Regions from separate parts of the Homo sapiens genome. Here all the other regions are linked to region 1. Evidence: fine-mapped expression QTL. A gene starts in region 1. Each other region holds a variant in brackets. All regions are shown on one strand. Distances are between the middles of the regions.

Region 1 (8,179 bases):
TCTTCTGGATCACTTCTTTCTCCAGTGAGGCCAGTACCTAAAGAATTGTTCTGAATGGGCTGAGACAGCGAACCCACGGATTCAGGGACCTAAATTTTCTACCTGTGAACTTCCACTATTTGGAAGGCCTGCAGATGAAGCCTGCCTGTTAGGTGACAGTAGAGGTAGAGAATTCTAAACAACTGCCATGGCTTTGAGCAAATCAGAGGTAGCAGTGACTCCTCTCTCATCCCATGTTTCAAGCTCTTACCTCCCCAAAGCCAAATCCTTCCCCAGGTGAAAGGAAGGCAGCCCAGGAAAGGGTATTCCTTAAGGTTACAGCATTAGCAACCTGATAGGCTCTGGTCCCCAACCAACTTTTTTCCCCTCTGGAGCTATGTTCTGCCCTATTTTTAATTCCATGTAAAAGGTCATCAAGGAAAAAAAAAGTGACAGAGACACTTCAAGCTACTCTGGACAGGAGAGTTTACAGTCTTATCAGAAATTTCTAAAGCATGAGAGATTTTTTGAAAAGGAAAACAAGGCTCAGAGACGTAAAGCAAGTTTCTCGAGGACCTGCGACTTTAGCAGGTATCTTTCTCTGAAGAGGAAATAGCCTTCCCTAAACTCAAGCAAAATTCTGTGCCCTCAGGTCAAATAACCAGGTCTTTTCCTAGTCAGAGTGAAGAGGAACTCAAAATGACCAAGTTACAAATCTGGAACATGGTCAGGCGTGATGGTTCATGCCTGTAATCCCAGCAGTTTGGGAGGCCAAGGTGGGAAGATCACTTGAGGACAGAAGTTCAAGACCAGCCTGGGCAACATAGTGAGACCCCTGTGTCTACAATAAAAAAAAAATTAAAAATTTTCAATAAATAAATAAAAACCCTGGAATGTGCCTCATACCAAAACCCCAAGGTGAACGCTTCTAAACCACTTTCTGTAGTGGTGCTCCCATCTGTGGAAGCACACAGGCTGAAAAAGCCTTTCCCAGGCTGTAAGCACTAGCTATCCTCAAGGCAGAAATGAAATTCAATAAATATTCTGAACTGCTTTTGAAAGCATAAACCACTAGGTGCCCTGGGCCACTCACAATTACAAGAATGTTGAACTACAAAGAAACTACACAGAAACAGCAAGTTCAAAAGAAGGCCAAACCCTTATCTGGACTAACTTGGTAACAAATACCTGAATTCATTCAACATAAAATCAACTTTTCTCAGCATGCTGGAAACAATATCACAGGCAGGCGGGAAAAGAAATAAGGCATACAGTTCCTACTGCAATCAGTGTAAATAGCTGCACGAGGCAAGGGTCTTCAAATACCTGGCACACCCTTATCCAAACAGGCCCAGAAGAAAGGCAGTGTGAACAGCTGGACTTCCCTTGGTAGGACTGACTCCTTAGTAGAGAGCTGCCTCCTGAGAGTGCAAGCTTATGCGCATCTCAGCCCGACCTAAAGCCAGCAAAATGCCTTTCTCAGGAACCTGGTAAGCGCAATGTTGCAACAAGCTGGTCCAAACTGCAGCTGACAAGCGCCACCTCCCACTCCCCATCCATGCCTTAATACTGCTCCAATTCTTACCCAGATTGGTAGAATGGAGAGGGGAACCTTAGCAGGGAACCTTCATTTATACAATGCCCCAAGGGCCAGTGTCCGAAATAGGACTCCAGTACACACAAGCTTTGGTAGGTCTCATGTAATTTTACCTGCTACAATAAACTCCTTCCAAGGAACTGCAACCATGAGCCAATAACCCAAGGACACAGATCTTGGCTGACTGCTGACCAAGCCAAAGAAACACACACACACACACACACACACACACACCACCTGCATCAGCAAATTAAAACCAGAATTTCTGAATAAGGGCAGTATCTGGGAACTAAACCTGTGTGGTCTTACTCGGCTTTATTCTCTGCACAACAGACTGAATAGGACGATGTAACCAATGTAAGGCCTGGTATCTGCTAAGTGAAAGAAACCATCCGCTCAGCACCCTCACCACCGCTATCTCAAGAGGCAAAGTCCACAAACTGTCTAGTTTCCTCAAGGGCTCTTTCCTCCCTGCCCACACTCGTGAAGAAAGAGGAAGGGTCCAGGATAGAGATAGTAATGACCTCCTGCTATAAAGTCTGGCTTTGGCTGCTGTTACCGCTGCTAAAGACTGGAGCCCTGAGTCAGCTGAACCCAGGCTACTGTGATCTACATGCCAGGGCTCAACAAACTCCAAGACAAACATAGAACTTCACAAAACAGCCCTGTGTCCCAAGACCCTCACATGTGTGAAAGGCAATAAACTCCTTAATATAACAAACTCCAGGACACTGCAATCGACTTGGGAAGAACTAACTATTTTAGTAAAAGCAAGAGCCAAATCTGGGCATCGCAGAAAAAGAATGAGAGAAAGTGAAGAGTGAGTCTGTCTCCTGGTTGTCTGGAGGTGGCATACTGCCAATTTGGTAGCCTCTGAACCCAGCATACAGTATCAATCTCCTAGCAAAGAACTTCCTTCTGAAACCTGTTTTCCAATCCCTCCAACAGAAGAAACAAAGATTATAAAGCTGATCTTCCAAAACGGTGGTCTCGGGGCAACCTACATCACAAGCCCCTGGTGCAGAAACCTGGATCCCAGCAAAAAAGCTCAATCTACTATAATCAATTTCGAGTGGGGACTAGGAATCTGCATTTTTAACCAGCTGCCCTGGCAATTCTGACACACACTAACTTTGGGAAGGGAGCAGCTCCGTTAAAAACCACTGTTGCCCAGCAAGTTAAGTCACAATCATTTTCCCCCTAAGCTGGAATTAGAACTCTCAGGATCACCTAGGGGAGGTTGTAAGCATTCTCTGATAGACCATTCGGATTCTTACACTGGTTGACCCAGTTCACACACAGCCACCAGCCTCACGTGCAGGATGGCTTCGATAGAACCACCCTCTGGGGGCGGCCTGCCGATTCTACTTTTAAGCACACATATTCTTCGCTCGAAAAGAGGGCGGGGGAGGAGGCTACAATCAAACTTTCCTGGCCCATTCTCTTCGAAGATTCCTTCCTATTCTGGCTAAGAATCAAGCCCCGCTCCTGCAGAAGGGGCAAGGAAAGCGGCCGATTCCTGGGTCGACGAGAATCTCCCAAGAACTGTCTCGACAGGAGAAGCAGGGGCACCCATGACCTACAACCCGCGAGGCCTGGAGGTAGCAAAAGGCCGCCTTCGTCATTTCTCTCCCAGCTTGGATGGGAGTGAGGGGTTGAGAAAATGCAGGATGAGAAATCCAAATATAACTAACTTCTGGCCAACTCTCTGCCTGTATGACTCTAGGTACCTTGGAGCCAGTGCCAGGCCCTGAGCTCAGAGCGGGCCCCCGAAGAAGCTGCAGAGAGAAACTTCGCTCCAGAGACGCGGCCCCAGGGTCGAAAGGGGCTCGGGGCCCGCAGCCCCCGGCCGGCTGCGCCCAGCACAGCAGGCCCTGGATCCCGCGGCTCGGCAGGGGGACTCTCACCTCGGCCCACCCGGCCTTCCAAAGGGTCCTTGCGGAAGTGGATCCCGTGCACGTCCACATGCGCCTCTCCACCCGCGTTGACCGCCCAAATGACGCTCTCGGGCAGCCCGGCCCCCGCCGCGCCGGCCACGCCGGCCACGCCGAGCCCGGGTCCCCGGATCGCCGGCGGCAGCAGCAGCAGCAGCAGTCGCAGGAGCGCCACAGCGGTTCCCTCAACCGCCCAGGCTCCCAGCATGGCGGCCACCACCACGGGGGCAGCCCCCGCCGACCCTCGTCCTCGGCCGGCTGCCAGGCCACCCCGGACTCAGAAAAACAGCGCCACGGGCCGCTCCGCCTGAGCCGCCGGGGACATGTCGCTCTCAGGCCTCCTTCTTCTCAGCCACGGGTACCGCCTCCCACCTCAGGAACAACCTACCCCGCCGCCCTGCCCCCGGCCACGACGCTGCAGCCAATCAGCGCCCGGCCCTCATTAATTACCCACCACCCCGCCGGGAGGCGCCCGCTCATTGGCTGTCAGGCGCGGGAAAGGGCGTGGCTTCTCCCAGGCGCCGGCCCAGCAGTCGGGCACCAGATGGAGCGCGCGCAGAGGGAGTGAGTTCGGTTGAAGCGGCGGTTCGATGCGGAAGTGGCGGGTGCAGCGCCCAGGCGGCCCCGGAATCCCACAGCTGAATGGGAAAGGTGGCCTGGGGGGGGAAGGTTTAGGGTAGGGCGCACTGACATGTCGCCAGCACTTCCGGTGCTCTAGCTCCTGAGACCAAATAGGCTCTGGAGGGGGCGTGGCCGACTTTCCCGCCCCCTCTTCTTTTCTCAGGGAGCAGCATGAGCATAAATTCTAGTAGGAGAAGCAATGGACACTCTCCAGACCTAAGAGACGCAGTCCTTTTCCCCGCGTGAGGGAGAGGACCCATGCTTTCCCAGAGAGGCCGCGGACACAGGTCTCCAGGGAACGAATCCCATGAGAATAAGGCCCCGCCCCCTCCCCTTAGCGGGCTCGGGGCGGGTGGTAGCGTCCAGACGGCCGTCCAATGAGAAGGCTCCAACGCAGCGGAAACGCGTGGCTTTGAGAGCGAGTGGGTGCCAGGCTGCTCGCGTCTCCATGGCGACGGCCTCTGGCCGGCCTCCGCTGCGTAGGGGCGGGACCGAGGCACCCTAGGCGCTGGCGGGAGTCGCCGCCGGCGGTGCCCAGAGTGGATACCGGGGTTGTCCCGCACGGGCACGGCCCGAACTCCCTCCCTGCTCCTTCACAGTTCACCTGGCGCTCTCCCACACTGGCGATCCCTGCGCTTCGGTCGCTGTTCAAACTCCCATTTTTCCGATGGGGAAACTGAGGCATAGAAAGGGACTGAATTTTGCCAAAGGGTCGCACCGCAAGTGTAGGGCAGAGTCAAGGCAAAAACAAAAAAAACAAAAAAACGCTTATGCATTTTCCATAAATACTGGTCGATTTAGAAATTCTCCCTAAAAGGAAAAAAATGTATCAAGTCCCTGCTACCAGGGTTGTCAGATTTGGCAGATAAAATAGGAGAAGCCCAGTTATATTTGAATTTCAGATAAGCAAATGGGACCCACTTATACTAAAAAAAAAAATGCATTGTTTATTAAAATTTAAACAACTGGACTTCTTGTATTTTATCTACCAATCCTACCTACTACTTAGGCAATGAGCTTTGTGCTACATGAACAAAAAACACACCTGGGGTCCCGCATGAGAATCATAGACTTTGCACAACCCATAATGAAATTAATTGTTTAGTTAGAACAGTGGTAAGTGCTATACGGGAACAAAACAGGGTGCCAAAATAGAGACTATCAGTGGTGGATCTAAATGCACCCAAATTCCTTCCCAGGCCCCAAATTCAGACCCCATGGGGGTAACTTTTGGAAGTGTTCCCTCCCGGTCTCACTTTCCCCCCTATTTTGCAAGCATCTGGCCTTACTTCCTCCCATAGACATGTTTCCTGTCCAAGGTGTTTCTTTTTTTTTTTTTTTCTGTCTTTTTTGGAGACAGAGTCTTGCTCTGTCGCCAGGCTGGAGTGCAGTGGTGCAATCTCGGCTCATGGCAACCTCCACCTCCCGGGTTTAGGCGATTCTGCTGCCTCAGCCTCCTGAGTAGCTGGGACTACAGGCGCGCGCCACCACACCCAACTAGTTTTTTTTATTTTTATTAGAGACCGAGTTTCACCATGTTGGCCAGGATGATCTCGATCTCCTGACCTCGGGGTCCGCGGCCTCCCAAAGTGCTGGGATTACAGGTGTGAGCCACCACACCTGGCCTCTTGGGGTTTCTAATTCTACTATTCTCTCTCTCAAACTGTCATCTTTTAAGGATCTTGACAACTCAGAGGCTTCAGTTACCCTCAAAGGAGGGGTGTGGTGCAAATGGGGAACAGAAACACAAGTAGTGGTGATGGGGCTTCCTCCCTCCAGGCAGTTGGCCTGCAGAGCCCACGTACCACTCAGGTATTGCACTGCCACCAGGCGCTCATGTTTATTTTATCCTCAAGGCAGTCTAGTCCAGGAGAAACAATCACAAAAACGGATTAAATTTTGGGGGAGGCCTCTAAAGGCTTTCTCTCAGTCCTTCGTGTCTTTGGTCACCCCAGAGGGTGAAGAAGATACCCGGCTGGCTCCTGTTATTGAGCCCTTCAGATACCATTCGTGGTTGGGCCATCTGTGTACCAAGGAGCTTGGCTCCCTTTCTGAGATCCAGCTGCTCATGAATTAGGCTGTCTTTTCAGTAAAACGTAAAGTCTGAGACCCTGGAGGCAGGGTATGGGATCCGAGCGTGGGATCTAAGACAGGCTGCCTGCATCCCATGCCTAGTCCCATTTACCCACTGTGTGGCCTTGGGCAAGTGATGTACTTCGCTGAGTTTCAGTTTCCTCAGTTGTGAAATAGAGATACAGTCATGAGTCACTTAATGACAGGGATGCGTTCTGAAAAATGCATCATTAAGCGATTTTGTCATTGTGCAGAGATCACAGAGTGTACTTACACAAACCTAGATGGGGATAGCCTGCTATACACCTAGGCTATATGGTATAGCTGATAGCTCCTACACTACAAACCTCTACAGCATGTTACCTTACTGAATACTGTAGACAGTTGAACACAATGGTAAGTATTTGCGTATCTAAACACAGATACAGTATAAACACAGTATTGGCCAGCCTAGTGGCCCATGCCTGTAATTCCAGCACTTTGGGAGGCTGAGGTGGGTGGATCACTTGAGGCCAGGAGTTCGAGACCAGCCTGACCAACATGGAAAAACCCTGTCTCTACTAAAAATACAAAAATTAGCTGGGCATGGTGGGGCGCACCTGTAATCCCAGCTATTCGGAAGGCCGAGGCAGGAGACTCGCTTGAACCCGGGAGGCAGAGGTTACAGTGAGCCGAGATCGCACCACTGCACTCTAGCCTGGGTGACAGAGTGAGATCCAGTCTCAAAAAAAAAATATATATATATATACACACACACACACACACACACACACACACAAAATTTTATTTATTTATTTATTTATTTATTTATTGTGGAGACAGATTCTCACTATGTTGTCCAGGCTGGCCTCTAACTTGTGGCCTCAAGCGGTCCTCCCGCCTTGACCTTCCAAAGTCCTGGGATTACAGGCCTAAGCCCCTGCACCCAGCCAATATTATAATCTCACGGGACCATCATCGTGTATGTGGTTCGTCATTGGCTGAAATGTTATGTAGCACATGACTGGAATACTTTATTTTACTTATTTATTTTTTGAGACAGAGTCTCACTCTTGCCCAGGCTGGAGTGCAGTGGCATGATCTCGGCTCACTTCAGCCTCTGCCTCCTGGGTTCAAGCAATTCTCGTGTCTCAGCCTCCCAGATAGCTGGGATTATAGGCATGCACCACCATGCCTGGCTAATTTTTGTATTTTTAGTAGAGACAGGGTTTCTCCATGTTGGCCAGCCTGGTCTTGAACTTCTGGCCTCAAGTGATCCACCTGCCTTGGCCTCCCAAAGTGCTGGGATTACAGGTGTGAACAACCGCACCTGGCCTGGAATAGTTTCTATTTCAGAGGGCAGACGTGAGGATTAAAGAAGGTAATAAAACCGCATGAAGAAGAGGAGGAGAAGGTGGTAATGCATATAATAAAGTCATTAGAATTGATAAAGAGCTGAAACAATTGTTTAGATACTCCGAGACCAACCACCATAGCCACATAACCAAAATTTTAGCACCTGATTTTCCAAAATGCTAACTCTAAACATAAACAAAGCACAAGAATAAGTTTTCTTCCCTTATTAGCATGATTCCACAGAATTAAACCAATCAGCCATAGACAAACCAGCTTAAGCAGCTCTATTTGCCTTTGAAAAAATATATATCAGCCAATCATGTAAAGGGTCAAAATACTTCCTCTTGTGCTACAACTGCTGTCAATTCAGACTTCTTGCCAATCTTGTAATCTCCCGATTCACAGACTCTTCCTTTGTATGCACAATCAACTCCTGAAATTTTAACTTGATCTGATTTTATTTTTGACAGATTCATGCCTGGCACAAGCCAAGGCACTCAACCGATTGCTACTCTGAAATGAAAGTCTCGGCCGGGCACGGTGGCTCACGCCTGTAATCCTAGCACTTTGGAAGGCCGAGGTGAGTGGATCACCTGAGGTTGGGAGTTCAAGACCAGCCTGACCAACATGGAGAAACCGC
Region 2 (8,179 bases), 220 kb before region 1:
CTTGAGATGGTAAACAGGTGAGTAAATATTTTTAAATTGTATTTACATTTTTTCTTTATTTCTTTAACAGATGCGGCTGTTTATTTATTTTTTCATTTTTTTCTCTATTTTATTACTGAAATATGTTGTCCTGCCCATCCCACCCCACAATAAAAATCTCACCCAGCCCCCCATTTATTTCCCTCATCCCCTCTTCCCCACACCATCCCAGAACAAGTCTTCCAGGATTCCCTGTCCACTGGCCATTTTGGAGTGTGTCCATTGGGTTGCAATATGGAAACCACCAGGGCTTTTGTGGAGAAAATGGAGGGGGTTGAGGGAGTCCCAGGAGGGGCTTATTTGAGGGCATTGGCCCCTTGCTCATAGGCGAGCTGGATCTCTTCATCATCTGGGCAGGTGGAGACGGGTTCTTCCCATGCATAAGCATTGCTCAAGTGCTGACGCGTTCCCGGGAAGGCCTCAGGGATGTTAAATCCCCGGTACTTCTTACACACCACCTGTACTATGTGTAGCTTTGGCAACAGGTTGCAGTCAGCCAGGGTGAGCTCATTGCCATTCAGAAACTTCCTCTGCGAGATGCCCTCATCTTCAGCACTGGTTTCATCTACTTCTTTTGGGAGGGGGGATGTTAAGTAATTGTCTAAAACCTTCAGGGCTTCCAGGAGTCCCTTCTGCAGATTATCATTGAGTGCTGGGTTTGAATTCTTGATGTAGGCAGAAAATTTGGCAAATATGTCCAGCCCAGCTGTGTTGGACTCAGGGTTCAGAGCTGCCAGCTTGGGGTATCTCGGAGGGCACAGTACTGCCTCCAGAAATTCCACCATCTTGTTGGTGTCTGTGTGCACTTCAGTGCCATGCAGCAGGAATGGGAGCTGCCCTCCTGGGCACAGCTTCTGCACTCTCTCAGTCTGTCTCTTGGTGTCAATGGTGGTAACGTTGAAGGTGACTCCTGTGACCCACAGCACTATGAACAGTCTCAGGGAGAAGGGGCGGTTCCCAGTCTCGGCCCCATCACTGCCAGCCTTCACGCACAGTTAGACTGGCAGTTGTTCTTCCGCCGTGGTTGCGTCCCTTTTTTTTTTTTTTTTTTTTTTTTTGAGACAGAGTCTTGCTCTGTAGCCCAGGCTGGACCCAGGCTGGAGTGCAGTGGTGCGATCTTGGCTCACTGCTACCTCCACCTCCCGGGTCCCGGTTCAAGCAATTCTCCTGCCTCAGCCTCCTGAGTAGCTAGGATTACAGGCACGTGCCACCATGCCCAGCTAATTTTTCTATTATTAGTAGAGATGGGGTTTCACCATGTTGGTCAGGCTGGTCTTGAACTCCTGACCTCGTGATCCACCCGCCTGGGCCTCCCAAAGTGCTGGGATTACAGGTGTGAGCCACCGTACCTGGGCCTTCCTTTTTTTTTTTTTTTTTTTTTAATCATATAGGCACACTGACAGATGTGGCTATTTAAGAGCTAAAGTTATGACATTGTATTGTGGGGTTTATAACAGATGTCATTTATATAATAAGAACAACAAAAGAGGGTGGACATGGAAATAAATGGAACGATATTGTGCAAAGTTCCTACATTTTATGGGAAATAGTACAATATTAATTTTAAGTAGATTGTGGGCTGGACGCACTGGCTCACTTCCATAATCCCAACACTTTGGGAAGCCGACATGGATGGATCACTTGAGGTCAAGAGTTCAAGACCAGCCTGGCCGACATGGTGAAACCCTGTCTCTACTAAAAATACAAAAATTAGCTGGGCGTGGTGGTACGTGCCTATAATCCCAGCTACTTGGAAGCCTGAGGCATGAGAATCACTTGAACCCAGGAGGCGGAGGTTGTAGTGAACCGAGATGGAACCACTGCCCTCCAGCCTGGGTGACAGGGTGAGACTCCAGCTCAAACATGATAATAATAATAATAATAATAATAATAATAATAATAATAAATAGGCCGGGCGCGGTGGCTCACGCCTGTAATCCCAGCACTTTGGGAGGCCGAGGCGGGCGGATCACGAGATCAAGAGACCGAGACCATCCTGGCTATACTAAAAATACAAAAAATTAGCCAGGGGTGGTGGTGGGCACCTGTAGTCCCAGCTACTCGGGAAGCTGAGGCAGGAGAATCGCTTGAACCTGGAAGGTGGAGCTTGCAGTGAGCCAAGATCGTGCCATGGCACTCCAGCCTGGGCGACAGAGGAAGACTCTTTCTCAAAAAAAATAAAATAAAATAAAATAATAATAATAATAACAATTTTAAGTAGATTGTGATAAGTTAAAGCTCATGAGATTCACACTCACTACAGCAGCCACTTCGACTACAATTTAACGAGGGTACAGCTTTAAAAAAGCCAGTAAAGCCGGGGGCAGTGGCTCACACCTGTAATCCCAGCACTTTGGGAGGCCAAGGCAGGTGGACTGCCTGAACTCAGGAGTTTGAGACCAGCCTGAGCAACATGGTGAAAACCCATCTCTACTAAAATACAAAAGATTAGCTGGGTGTGGCAGCGTGTGCCTGTAATCCCAGCTACTCAGGGGGCTGAGGAAGGAGAACTTCTGGAACCCAGCAGGCAGAGGTTACAGAGAGCCGAGATTGCACCACTGCACTCCAGCCTGGGCAACAAGAGCAAGACTCTGTCTCAAAAAAGAAAAAAGCCAGTAGAGATATTAAAATATAATCATAAAAAATTACTCAGTTAACTCAAAAGAAGGTAGGAAAGGAGAAACAGAGGAACAACAACAAAAAAGATGGAATGAGTAGAAAACAAATAGCAAAATGGCAGAACCAAACCTAAACACATCAACAATTACATCAAATGTAAATGAAATAAATATTCTAATTAAAACACAGAAATGGTTAGGCAGGAGCCGGGCACTGTGGCTTATGCCTGTAATCTCAGTACTTTGGGAGGCTGAGGCTGAGGCTGAGGAAGGTGGATCACCTGAGGTCAGAAGTTCAAGACCAGCCTGGCCAACATGGAGAAACCCTGTCTCTACTAAAAGTACAAAAATTACCCGGGCGTGGTGGCAGGCGCCTGTAATTCCAGCTACTCATGTGGCTGAGGCAGGAGAGTGGCTTGAACCCGGGAGGTAGAAATTGGAGTGAGCTGAGATTGCACCACTGTACTCCAGCCTGGGGGACAGAGTGAGACTCTGTCTTGAAAAAAAAAAACGAAAGAAAGAAAGAAAGAAAAAGAAATGGTCAGGCAGAGCAAAGAAGAATATATAAGCATATGCTATCTACGAGGCACATACTTTTTAAAAAGTTTTATTTATTTATTTTTTTTAGACAGTCTCACTCTGTTGCCCAGGCTGGAGTGCAGTGGCACCATTTTGGCTCACTGCAACCTCCACTTCCTGCATTCAAGCGATTCTCCTGCCTCCGCCTTCCTAGTAGCTGGGATTACAGGTGCATGCCACTACCCCCGGCTAATTTTTGTATTTTTGTAGAGACAGAGTTTCACCACATTGGCCAGGCTGGTCTCGAACTCCTGACCTCAGGTGATCTGCCTCCTTGGCCTCCCAAAGTGCTGGGATTACAGGTATGAGCCATCGCGCCTGGCCTAAGGCACATAAATTTATTTACTTATTTTTGTTTTATTTTTTCATAGAGTCTCACTCTGTTGCCCAGGCTGAGTGCAGTGGCGTGATCTGGGCTCACTGCAACCTCTGCCTCCCAGGTTCAAGCAATTCTCCTGCTTCAGCTTCCCGAGTAGCTGGGACTACAGGCATGCGCCACCACACCTGGCTAATTTTTTTGTGTGTTTTAGTAGAGACGGGGTTTCACCGTGTTGCCCAGGCTGGTCTTGAACTCCTGAGCTCAGACAATCCGCCCGCCTCAGCCTCCCAAACTGCTAGGTTTACAGGCGTGAGCCACCACGCCCAGCCGGCACATACTTTATTATTATTATTTTTTTTTTTTTTTTGAGACGGAGTCTCGCTCTGTCTCCCAGGGTGGAGTGCAGTGGCGCGATCTTGGCTCACTGCAAGCTCCTTCTCCCTTGTTCACACCATTCTCCTGCCTCAGCCTCCTGAGTACCGGTGACTACAGTCACCGGCCACGCCTGGCTAATTTTTTTTTTGTATTTTTTTAGTAGAGAAGGGGTTTCACCATGTTAGCCAGGGTGGTCTCCATCTCCTGACCTCGTGATCCACC[C/T]GCCTTGGCCTCCCAAAGTGCTGGGATTACAGGCATGAGCCACCACGCCCAGCTGGCACATACTTTAAATACAAACCCACACTGAGGTTGACAGTAAAAGGTTGGAAAAATGATCTAAAATAAAAACACACATCATAAGAAAGCTATATTAATATCAGATAAAGTAGACTTCAAAACTAAGAACATAAGACAGGTATTTCATAATGATAAAAGGGGCACTTCATTAAGAAGATATAACAATTTTAAGTATCAACCTAATCATAGTTCCAAATACATAAAGGAAAAATTGATATAATTAAATGAAGAAGTAAATTCATAATTAGAAATTTACTTATCTCTAAATAATTGAGCTGCTAGACAAAAAAATCAGTAAGGACATAGAATATCTGAACAACATTATCAGCCACCTTGAATTAGTTGACTATTATAGAACACCGCACCCCGAAATAATAGAATTCTTCTAAAGTGCACCTGGAATAGTCACTGCAATAAACCATATGTTGGCTATAAACAAGTTCCAATAAGCTTCAGAAGACTGAAATCTTACAGAATATATTCTCTGACCACAACAGAATTCAATTAACATCAACAACAAAGAAGATATCCAGGAAAGCCCCAAGTATTTGGAAATTAAACAAGATTCTTCCAAAAAATACATAGTATCCATGGTATACCCAAATAAATTGAAAACATGTCCACATGAAACCTGCACACAAACCTTGAGAGCTGCTTTATTCATACTTGCCAAAAGTTGGAAGCAACCAAAGTGTCCTTCAATAGGTGAAGGGATAAACGAACTCTGGTACATTCATACAATGGAATATTATTCAGCAATAAAAAGAAATGAGCTATCAAGCCACGAAAAGACATGGAAAAATATCAAAAGTATACTGCTACGTGAAAAGCCAGCCTGAAAAGGCTACACGCTGTATGATTCCAATGATAGGACATTCTGGAATAGGCAAAACTATGCAGACAGTAAAAAGATCCGTGGTTGCCAGAATTTGATGGGGAGGGAGGGATGAATAGGCAGAGGGTGGGAGATTTCTGGGGCTGTGAAACTATTCCGTATGACATTATAATGGTGGTTACATACCATAGTGTATTTGTCAAAGCCCGTAGACTATACAACATGAAGAGTAAAACCTAATCTCATTATTGGCTCATCAACTGTAACAAATGTACTTACACTAATATACCATGTGATTAATAGGGGAGATTTACTGGAGGGAGAGGCCTATATGGGAACTCTCTGTACTTTCCCATCAATTTTTCTGTAAGCCTGAAACTTCTCTAAAAAACGTTTTCTGAAAACCCATGTTCAAAGAATGCAAGTGACCCTGTGTCTGATAAGCTCACCATATACCTTACTTCTGATCTGTCTTCCCGTATCTCTCTCCCCTTAAGAACTCTCACTCTTAGTCAAGGAGGGAGTTACAGAGGACAGAAGTGGGTGTTGAGTATGACATCAGGCAAAACAAGTTGTTCTGGATCCTGGCTTGCCTTCCCCTTCACTCAAACATTCATTCTACAGACACTGAGCTTCTATTCTGGGCTAATCTCTCTGCTGGGCACACAGGATATAACTGGCAGCCAGTTACAATCCCTTCCCAAGAAGCATTCACAAGCTAAGGGAGAAACTGACAAGTAAACAGTCGATGACAGTTCATTATGCCAAGTGTCATGTGGGTAAATTCAGAGGACAATGAGAATGCAGAGAAGTATCTAACCCAGCCTAGGTTTTGGTCAAGTGAGATTTCCTGGAGGATGTGACATTGCAGTCAAGCCCCGAAAACTATAAGCAGCAGTTAAGAGGCAATGGGAGGCCGGGCGCTGCGGCCCACACCTGTAATTCCAGCGCTTTGGGAGGCAAAGATGGGTGGATCACTTGAGATCAGGAGTTTGAGACCAGCCTGGCCAACATGGCCAAAGTCGTCTCCACTAAAAATACAAAAAAAAATTAGCTGGGCATGGTAGTGGTGGGCAACTGTAATCCCAGCTACTCGGGAGGCTGAAGCAGGAGAATCACTTGAACCCAGGAGGCGAAAGTTGCAGTGAGCTGAGATGGCGCCACTGCACACCAGCCTCGGCGACAGAGTGATACTTTGTCTAAAAAAAAAAAAAAAAAGAAAGACCCAATGGGAAACCTCCTGGACTTGATCAGAGGATTGGAAGCAAAAAAGAACACAGCCCGTGGGGAAGCTACAAGCAGGTCACTATGGAATATAAACAAAGTGCACATGCATGTGTGTGGGGGCGAGGGGTGGATGACAGAGGGGAGAAATGGCCTGGAGGGACTGGTAGAGCCAGGTCAGACCTAAGCCTTGATGTTCTCAGAAACAATGCTTAAGCAGCCCAGACAGACCTTGTAATGCCAGCTTCCTGGAGTCTGTGCCTAAAGCAGAGGACCCATCCTGGGGGAGACTCCCCAAGTCTCTTTTGAACACACTTGGTGGAAGAAGCTATCCTATAATTACTGTGGTGATAATTAGAGGCACCTGCATGGCCTCTTTCTTTCTTTTTTTTTTTTTGAGACGGCGTTTCGGAGTTTCGCTCTTGTTGCTCAGGCTGGAGTGCAGTGGCACGATCTCGGCTCACCGCAACCTCCGCCTCCCGGGTTCAAGCGATTCTCCTGCCTCAGCCTCCCGAGTAGCTGGGATTGCAGGCATGTGCCACTACCACCCGGCTAATTTTTGTATTTTTAGTAGGGATGGGGTTTCTCCATGTTGGCCAGGCTGGTCTTGAACTCCCGACCTCAGGTGATCTGCCCGCCTAGGCCTCCCAGTGTGCTGGGATTACAGGCATGAGCCACCGCACCCAGCCTCCATGGCTTCTTTCAGCAAATATTGCACAAGCTGTAGCGCTCTCACCTGCAGTGGGGTGCAGAGAGACAAAGCACCCCTCCTGGGGGAGCCTAATGCCTGAGTCTCTTGTGAAGCACACCTGACTCCCTGGCTGAGGCCCAAAGGTGTCACAGATACACCTGGGGCTGCTATAGCTTGGAGCTGAGTGCTGCTGGCAGGGAGACTAAAAGTCACTCCCAGTCGGGTGCGGTGGCTGACGCCTATAATCCTAGCACTTTGGGAGACCAAGGTGGGCAGATTGCCTGAGCTCAGGAGTTCGAGACCATCCTGGCCAACATGGTGAAACCCCGTCTCTACTAAAAATACGAAAAATAGCTGGGCATGGTGGTGGGTGCCTGTAATCCGAGCTGCTTGGGAGGCTGAGTCAGTAGAATGGCTTGAACCCAGGAGGTGGAGGTTTCAGTGAGCTGAGATTGCGCCACTGCACTCCAGCCGTGTGACAGAGCAAGACTCTGTCTCAAAATAAAATTAAAATTAAAAAGTCACTCCCCAGATGCCACAGTCTGGGCAGCTCCCAGGCAAGCCACAGGCTTCAGATTTATTCCAACCTTGCCCTCTGGGGAGACTTCAAGCCTGTAGAGATGTTGACTAGGATCTAGAGGTGCTGTCTACTTCTCGGCAACCTTAGCCTGAGATGCTCAAGCCATTAGTCTCTGGGCCCACACTTCATCTTCCTGGGACCAGGTACACGGTGTTTCCATGGCCTGGACATCATCCCAGCCCTGGCAAGTGCTGTGTAGCTTCTTCTAGGGTCTGCAGCCACATTTCCTCAAGAAACACTTCGGAGGTCTCTGGTTCAGATAGAGAGAAGAAAACCTCTCCTCATTCACCATACCTTCACCAAACCCCTTCTCCCTCCTTTCTTCCACCAGATTTTTCCCACTGAAAAGAATGGTCCCTTTGCTTCTGGGAAGGCCTTGACTTTCCTACTCTAGCAGCTCCCGTTTCATTCATCCAACACCAACTTTCCACTTGGCTTTGACTTCTATGACTCACTGGGAACCAAAGCCCAAGTGAATCGCCCAGAGGCTCAGTGTGGCATTTTCGTTTCAAAAGTGACATGTCTGGTCTGTTTTGTTCTTAGCTCTCCAAAGAAAAAGCTTCTGCATCACCCAAAGCCACTTCCAACGGCTTCTGGCCTTTCCCATGGGACCTAAAGCCTC
Region 3 (8,179 bases), 47 kb before region 1:
TAAGGGCACCAGCCTCACTCCCTCCACACCCCTGCTGGCAGACACGAAACCCTATGACTCGGGCTCCAAAGATGAGGGTCCCAAAGCTCTCAGTGATGGGACCAGAGGGCGAGGGGGGTGTGCAGGAGCTGGCGTCTTAAACCAGGGGACCCCGAAGGCAATCTTCCTCCCAGCGCCGCGGTGGCAAGAGCGCTCACCCTACCAACCACACGGGGAGCCTCCCCTCTGGCCTCCGAAGCAGTGGGCAGTTGGCCTAGCACCTTCCTCTCCTCCCCTCTGGGCCTGTCACCCTAAGGACAGGTGAGGGGACAGGGCAGGTACCTGGTTCGCTGAGGGCAAAGCAGCCAATTTTGTCACCACTGGTGAAAGGCGTGACCCACGCCTGCTTCTGCTCCTTGGAGCCAAACTTCAAGATGGGCCCCAGGTAGAGAGACTAGGAGGACAGCGGGGAGCGGTCGGAGGCCCCAGGCCCAGGCGCATCCTGCCCACCTGCGGGCTGCACCTCAGGGCCTGTTCTGTCCAGGGCCTACCCAGTAGGACCAAGGCCTGTGACGTCTCCAGAGAGATCAGGGCTGGGAGCCGAGGCCAGAGCCTGCCCGCTCACGGGAGCCTCCCTCCACCCGTGTGTCCCAGGGGCCTGGGAGGGGGCTCACGTTGTTGACACTCATGATGACTCCGGTGGAGGCGCAGCCACGGCTGATCTCCTCCATGGCGATGGCGTAGGCCAGGTAATCGAGGCCAGCACCGCCAAGCTCCTCGGGCACGTCCATGGCCAGAAGCCCAAGCCCGCCCATCTTCTTCACCTGGGCACAGGGAAGGACGGCACGCCATGGGCAGCTGCCGGGGGCGAGCCCACCCTCCCCAAGCCCAAACCCTCCTGCCCCCGAGGCAGTGCCCTGCAGAAACTCAGGCCATGTGACCCCAGCCACGCACAAGGGATCCCCAAGTCCAGAAGCTGAAGACCCAGTCCCACTGAGGTCTATATGATGGCACTTCTCATTCAAGCTGTCCTGCCCCCGCCTCCACGCCTGCTCCCCGCTCCGTCCACAGCCACGGCAGCGAGCAAGCAGAAGGCACAGGATGCTTTCAGGGAACTCAGAGGTAAGGAGCAGGACAGCGTGAGCCACACTGACCTTCGTCCAGCCCCCTCTGCACATCCACACACACGCACCCTCCCCACCACAGGGCCTCTGCACATGCCACCTCCTATCCCTCAGCTGGTTATTGCCCCTCCTCTCCTTCTGATCGCAGCTCAGGCCTCGCTGCTTTGGGCTGCCATCCCCAGCCTCGCTGAGTCAAATCCTTCAGTCCCTCTCCTGCAGCACTTCTGCGGCTGGAATTTCTCAGGGATGAACGTGCTTCTCTGGATTAAGGTCTTTTGCCTTCACCACGAGGGCACAGACTGTGTGTGCTCTTGCTCACTGCTACATGCCCAAGGCCAGTGAGAGAATGAATGAAGGATAAGAGCTTGGGACTCTTAATTCTGGGTAATAATCATATTAAGAGTGGGCCAGGAGCAGTGATCACACCTGTAATCCCAGCACTTTGGGAGACCAAGGTGAGGGGATTGCTTGAGGCCAGGAGTTCGAGACCAGTCTGGGCAACATAGCAAGACCCCATCTCTACCAAAAACAAAATAATAATAATAGTATTATTACTTTCAGGTGAGTAATATGGGAAATGTGGACCACAGAATCTACCTAACTTCAAAAAGGAACAAGTAAAACCACTTATCTCTGGGAGAGCAGGGACAGGGACAGGGACGGGGACAGGGACAGGGACGGGGACAGGGATGGGGACGGGAGGGAACCGTTGCTTTTCACGAGCCCTTTTATACAATCTCATTCCTGCAAACATGTTATTTTATTTTATTTTATTTTATTTTATTTTGTGACAGAGTATTGTTCTGTTGCCCAGGCTGGAGTGCAGTAGTGCAGATCTCGGCTCACTGCAACCTCTTCCTCCCAGGTTCAAGCAATTCTCTGCCTCAGCCTACCGAGTAGCTGAGATTACAGGTGCCCATAATCACGCCCAGCTAATTTTTGTATTTTTAGTAGAGACGGGTTTTCACCATCTTGGCCAGGCTGGTCTTGAACTCCCGACCTCGTGATCCACCCACCTCGGCCTCCCAAAGTGCTGGGATTACAGGTGTGAGCCACCACACCTAGTCTCAACCATGTTCTTATACTACCATGACTTACATAAACTAATAAGAATGTTTGCTAATATATTCTTGTTTTTCTATACTCCTGTGAATATAAAAGTTTTACCTTCCCCGTCCCCAAAACAGTACTCACCTCAAAGGACTGTTCTGAGGCCTGACTGAGATAATACACATGAAAGGCAGAGCCCAGCACCTGGCCCAGGCTGAGGTACTGTTGAACAGCATCTATCATCAAGTGGCTGCCAAGTTGTTTTTTTTTTTTTTTTTTTTTTTTTTAAGGACTGCGCACAGTGACTCACACCTGTAATCCCAGCACTTTGTTTGTTTCTTTTTTCTTTTTTTTTTTTTTTTTTGAAACAGAGTCTCACTTTGTTGCCCAGGCTGGAGTGCAGTGGCACAGTCTCGGCTCACTGCAACCTCCACCTCCTGGGTTCAAGTGATTCTCCTGCCTCAGCCTCCCGAGTAGCTGGGATTACAGGTGCCTGCCACCACACCTGGCTAATTTTTATATTTTTGGTAGAGACCAGGTTTCACCACATTAGCCAGGCTGTTCTCGAACTTCTGACCTGAAGTGATGCGCCTGCCTCAGCCTCCCAAAGAATCTCAGCACTTTGGAAGGCCAAAATGGGTGGATCATTTGAAGCCAGGAGTTCGAGACCAGCCTGGCCAACGTGGTGAAACCATATCTCTACCAAAAATATAAAAACTAGCCAGGCATGGTGGCGGGTGCCTGTAATCCCAGCTACTCGGGAGGCTGAGGCAGGAGAATTGCTTGAACCTGGAAGGAAGAGGTTGCAGTGAACCGAGAGCACGCCACTGCACTCCAGTCTGGGCGACAGAGCGAGAATCTGTCTCAAAAAAAAAAAAAAAA[T/AAT]TATTGTTTTTTTAGAGACAGGGTGTCACTGTGTTGCCCAAGCTGGTGTCGAACTCCTGGCTCGAGTGATCCTCTTGCCTCAGCCTCCCTCATGCTGATTAGAGGCACGAGCCACCACACCAAGCCTAGTTCTTACTTTGGCAATAACGTATGGAAAAGAGGGGGCACCTAGGAGCCTGCAGCACTTCTGTGACAACCTGTGTGTCCCTCTGTGAAATTGCTTATTTGATTCTTCCTTGAACTGTTCCCATGGGAAACTCACTTGTAAGACTCTAAGTGCGGGGCGGAGCGTCATCTCCGAGTCTCCCACACGTACCACATGTGGGGCATAAACGTGTGTGCTGAGAGGCTTGAGCTATGACCCCCACAAGTGCACATCAAGCTCTGCGGCCCCCAGGCAGATGCTGTGCTGCAGTCAGAGGGCAGAGAAGCTGGGAAGGAGATGGCCAGTGTGTGGAAGGCAGCATGACAGCAACCGCCCAAGATGTCCCCATCCTAATCCCAGGTCCCAGGAGTATGTTCCCTTCCGTGGCAATAGGGACTTTGCACACGTAAGTGAAGCGTCTGGAGATGTGAGGGTTATTCTGGATGATCAGAGTCACCCAGTGTCATCACAGAGTCTTTGTAAGGCAAAGACAGACACAGACTCAGAGAAGGAGAGGTGACGACGGAAGCAGAGGCAGGAACTCTGGCGGGAAGAATGCAGGCGGCCTCTAGAACTGGGAAAGACAGGAGTGGATTTCCCCAGAGCCTGCAGAGGGAACTCAGTCCTGCCGATGCCTTGATTTAGCCCTGTGGGACCCACACTGGATGCCTGACTCGGGTTGAGTAACTCGTGAACAGCATTTCTCAAGTGGCTGCCATGGTTTGGTTTTGTTTTTTCTATTTTTTTTTTTTTTTTTTGGTAGAGATGGGGTCTTGCTATGTTGCCCAGGCTGGTCTTGAATGGTCAGAGAATATATCTGTATTGCTTTAAGCCACAGGGTTTGTGGTCATTTGTTACAGCAGCAATAGGAAACTCATCCACAGTGACAAATGGGAACTCAGAGCTACCAGGGAGGTGTCATTTTGAGAATTACTAAAAAGAAGATTGTTCTGTGGCCGCCACACACCTGGGGAGGGGGGTCCTGCTCAGAATAGGCACCATTTCAGCAGGCACCATTTCAGCAGGCACCATTTCAGCAGGCACCATTTCAGCAGGCACCATTTCAGCAGGCAGGAACCAACTAGGGAAGGGGAAGTCCAAGTGAGAGAGTGCTTTTCACTAGGAAGAGGACCTGGAGACACAGACCTGCGGCAGCACACACATGGCCTCTGAACAGAACACTTTTCTAGCCCACACTTCAGAGTACTTTGCCAGGCGCAGTGGCTCATGCTTGTATTCCCAGCACTTTGGTAGCTGAGGCAGGTGGATCACCTGAGGTCAGGAGTTCGAGACCAGCCTGGCCAACATGGTAAAACCCCGTCTCTACTAAAAATACAAGGATTCTCCCTCTCCCTCTCCCTCTCCCTCTCCCCCCGGTCTCCCTCTCCCTCTCTTTCCACGGTCTCCCTCTGATGCCGAGCCGAAGCTGGACTGTACTGCCGCCATCTCTGCTCACTGCAACCTCCCTGCCTGATTCTCCTGCCTCAGCCTGCCGAGTGCCTGCGATTGCAGGCGCGCGCCGCCACGCCTGACTGGTTTTCGTATTTTTTTGGTGGAGACGGGGTTTCGCTGTGTTGGCCAGGCTGGTCTCCAGCTCCTAACCAGGAGTGATCTGCCAGCCTTGGCCTCCCGAGGTGCCGGGATTGCAGACGGAGTCTCGTTCACTCAGTGCTCAATGTTGCCCAGGCTGGAGTGCAGTGGCTTGATCTCAGCTCGCTACAACCTCCACCTCCCAGCCGCCTGCCTTGGCCTCCCAAAGTGCCGAGATTGCAGTCTCTGCCCGGCCGCCACCCCGTCTGGGAAATGAGGAGCGTCTCTGCCTGGCCGCCCATCGTCTGGGATGTGAGGAGCCCCTCTGCCCGGCTGCCCAGTCTGGGAAGTGAGGAGCGCCTCTTCCCGGCCGCCATCCCATCTAGGAAGTGAGGAGCGTCTCTGCCCGGCCGCCCATCGTCTGAGATGTGGGGAGCGCCTCTGCCCCACTGCCCCGTCTGGGATGTGAGGAGCGCCTCTGCCCGGCCGCGACCCCGTCTGGGAACTGAGGAGTGTCTCTGCCCGACCGCCACCCCGTCTGGGAGGTGAGGAGTGTCTCTGCCTGCCCGCCCCGAGAAGTGAGGAGCCCCTCCGCCCGGCAGCCACCCCATCTGAGAAGTGAGGAGCCCCTCTGCCTGGCAGCCACCCCGTCTGAGAAGTGAGGAGCCCCTCCGCCCAGCAGACACCCCGTCTGGGAAGTGAGGAGCGTCTCCGCCCGGCAGCCACCCCGTCCGGCAGCCACCCCGTCCGGGAGGGAGGTTGGGGGCAGCCCCCGCCCGGCCAGCCGCCCCGTCCGGGAGGGAGGTGGGGGTCAGCCCCCGCCCGGCCAGCCGCCCCGTCCGGGAGGTGAGGGGCGCCTCTGCCCGGCCGCCCGTACTGGGAAGTGAGGAGCCCCTCTGCCCGGCCACCACCCCGTCTGGGAGGTGTACCCAACAGCTCATTGAGAACAGGCCATGATGACGATGGCAGTTTTGTGGAATAGAAAAGGGGGAAAGGTGGGGAAAAGATTGAGAAATCGGATGGTTGCTGTGTCTGTGTAGAAAGAAGTAGACATGGGAGACTTCATTTCGTTCTGTACTAAGAAAAATTCTTCTGCCTTGGGATGCTGTTGATCTATGACCTTACCCCCAACCCTGTGCTCTCTGAAACATGTGCTGTATCCACTCAGGGTTAAATGGATTAAGGGCGGTGCAAGATGTGCTTTGTTAAACAGATGCTTGAAGGCAGCATGCTCCTTAAGAGTCATCACCACTCCCTAATCTCAAGTACCCAGGGACACAAACACTGCGGAAGGCCGCAGGGTCCTCTGCCTAGGAAAACCAGAGACCTTTGTTCACTTGTTTATCTGCTGACCTTCCCTCCACTATTGTCCTATGACCCTGCCAAATCCCCCTCTGCGAGAAACACCCAAGAATGATCAATAAAAAAAATAAAATAAAATAAAATAAATACAAGAATTAGCCAGGCGTGATGGTGGGCGCCTATAATCCCAGCTACTTGGGAGGCTGAGACAGGAGAATCATTTGTACCCAGGAGGTGGAGGTTGCAGTGAGCCAAGATCGTGCCACTATACTCCAGCCTGGGCAACAGAGTGAGACTCCGCCTCAAAAAAAAAAAAAAAAACTATTTTATTAAGGAACACCTCTGCTGCTGGACAATACTCTACCAAGTGCTAGAAATACGCAGGTCTCCAGCTACTCAGGAGGAGGTTGAGGCAGGAGAATCACTTGAGCCCAGGCGTTCAAATCCAGCCTGGCCAACATGATGATACCCCTGTTTCTAAAAGAAAATTTTTTAATTAAAAAAATTTTAAAAAGAGGGTGTGGTAGCTCAGGCCTGTAATCCCAGCACTTTGGGAGACGGAGGTAGGAGGATCATCTGAGTCCAGGCGTTTGAGACCAGCTTCATCAACATGGCGAGACCCCCATCTCCACAAAAAGTTATAAAAATAAAAATAAATGAGCCAGGCATGGCGGTGCACACCTGTGGTCCCAGCTACTGCAGGAGGTGAGGCATGAGGATCACTTGAGCCCTGAGCCCGGGAGGTCAAGGCTGCAGTGAGCTGTGTTTGTGTCACTGCACTCCAGCCTGGGCGACAGTGAGGCCCTGTCTCAAAAAAACAAAAACAAAAATAAATATGCAGTTGTCCAAGACTCACGGTCAGGCCTAGGCATGAACCTCACCAAAAGCCTTTTTCTCTAGCTTACCAGCAAAACAGAATAAGGCTAAACTAGCTCAAGCCGCCTCACCCTCCAAGCACCTTCAGATCTCCCTGGACAGAGACACACCCTCCTTTTCACCCCGGAACTTGTTGGTATAAAACCCTGGAATAAATGGCACATGAGCCAATCGCTCCATAACTCCATCTCATCCCCAGAAACACAGTGGGAACCCAAATTCCCAGAAAGAGAGTAAAAGGATGAAACTCTCCTAGGTGCGTTCAGTTCCTCATACTCACCTAAAATGCTTGGTCACACGTCCCGACAGGTAGCAGAATGAGGGTGACCCCATATTCCTCTTACAGATGAGGGAATTCACACAGAAAGGGTATGTGGTGTCAGTGGCCAGGTCTAGGCCACCAGGAGGCAAGACAGAACCCCAGCCTCCTCCTCCCTACACAGCGCCGCCTCCCTCTGACTAATGCGACACTTCTCAATGAGCTAGAATCAAAAGTTGTAGGAATTCACAATTCCCACACCCAAAGGACCTCACTAGCATATACCATCGCCCTCAATTTTCCCCCAGCTCCTGTCTTCCCTCCTTTCTCACCATCAGCATTTTCTTTTACAGCATCTACCAGCTGGGCGCGGTGGCTCATGCCTGTAATCCCAGAACTTTGGGAGGCCCAGGCGGGCGGATAACAAAGTCAAGAGTTCGAGACCAGCCTGGCCAACATGGTGAAACCCCGTCTCTACTAAAAAGACAAAAATTAGCCGGGTGTGGTGGTGCGCACCTGTAGTTCCAGCTACTTGGGAGGCTGAGGCAGGAAAATTGCTTGAACCCAGGAGGCAAAGGCTACAGTGAGCCGAGATCGCACCACTGTACTCCAGCCTGGGGACAGAGCGAGACTCCATCACACACACACAAAAATAATTTAAAAAATAAAGCATCTACCTGTGGCTGTGAAAGACATGGCAGTTCCACTCACTCCCACTCTGGTGTTGAGACAGCAAATTTCAAAAGAGAGGAGCACCGCTCTGGGGCAGCACCTAAGAGCACAGCCTTCTCCATCCCATCCCAGAGCCTGGACACAGTCACCTCACCCCATTTTATCAGTGGTGACAGGGGCTGTTTCCCAGGCCTTCTCACTCTGAAATTTATCTCTAGATTTCAGGCAACAAACTGTGGCCAGCTACAGGAACATTCTAGAAAAAAAGTGGGGACAAAAGCAATAACCATGGTAATGTGCACTCGTTAAAGGGCCTCCTGAAAAAGAGACAGGGAGACCAGCACCGAGGGAAGGAAAAAG

Alleles and levels. Positions count from the first base shown, and alleles are read on the strand shown. Sizes are in standard deviations (SD) of each study's normalised expression. Not every link is listed here.
In carriers of allele T in region 3, the expression in subcutaneous fat of the gene that starts at base 3,866 in region 1 tends to be lower than with AAT alone (moderate effect, 0.66 SD a copy in TwinsUK).

The links.
Region 2: its variant is fine-mapped to the expression of MLEC in whole blood (INTERVAL, PIP above 0.99).
Region 3: its variant is fine-mapped to the expression of MLEC in subcutaneous fat (TwinsUK, PIP 0.95).

Annotation. Positions count from the first base shown.
Region 1 is chr12:120,682,836-120,691,014 of GRCh38, reverse strand. It overlaps MLEC (malectin), which reads right to left and starts at 3,866. Exons shown (of 5, transcript NM_014730.4): 1 at 3,484-3,866. The coding sequence starts at 3,718. LOC105370029 (a long non-coding RNA gene) reads left to right here and starts at 3,866. Exons shown (of 3, transcript XR_945449.3): 1 at 3,866-4,161; 2 at 8,010-8,119. RefSeq lists silencers at 3,508-3,807, 4,648-4,747, 5,862-5,951 and enhancers at 3,562-4,063, 4,158-4,287, 4,378-4,487.
Region 2 is chr12:120,907,283-120,915,461 of GRCh38, reverse strand. It overlaps XLOC_009911 (a long non-coding RNA gene), which reads right to left. Exons shown (of 2, transcript NR_131215.1): 2 at 7,388-7,807. It also overlaps the pseudogene CLIC1P1. Among named protein-coding and RNA genes, the nearest start is that of XLOC_009911, 6.7 kb to the right of the region's middle. RefSeq lists an enhancer at 5,297-5,416. The variant C/T (reference allele first, on the strand shown) is at 4,153.
Region 3 is chr12:120,729,610-120,737,788 of GRCh38, reverse strand. It overlaps ACADS (acyl-CoA dehydrogenase short chain), which reads right to left. Exons shown (of 10, transcript NM_000017.4): 3 at 654-803; 4 at 322-433. Among named protein-coding and RNA genes, the nearest start is that of ACADS, 7.9 kb to the right of the region's middle. The variant T/AAT (reference allele first, on the strand shown) is at 3,036.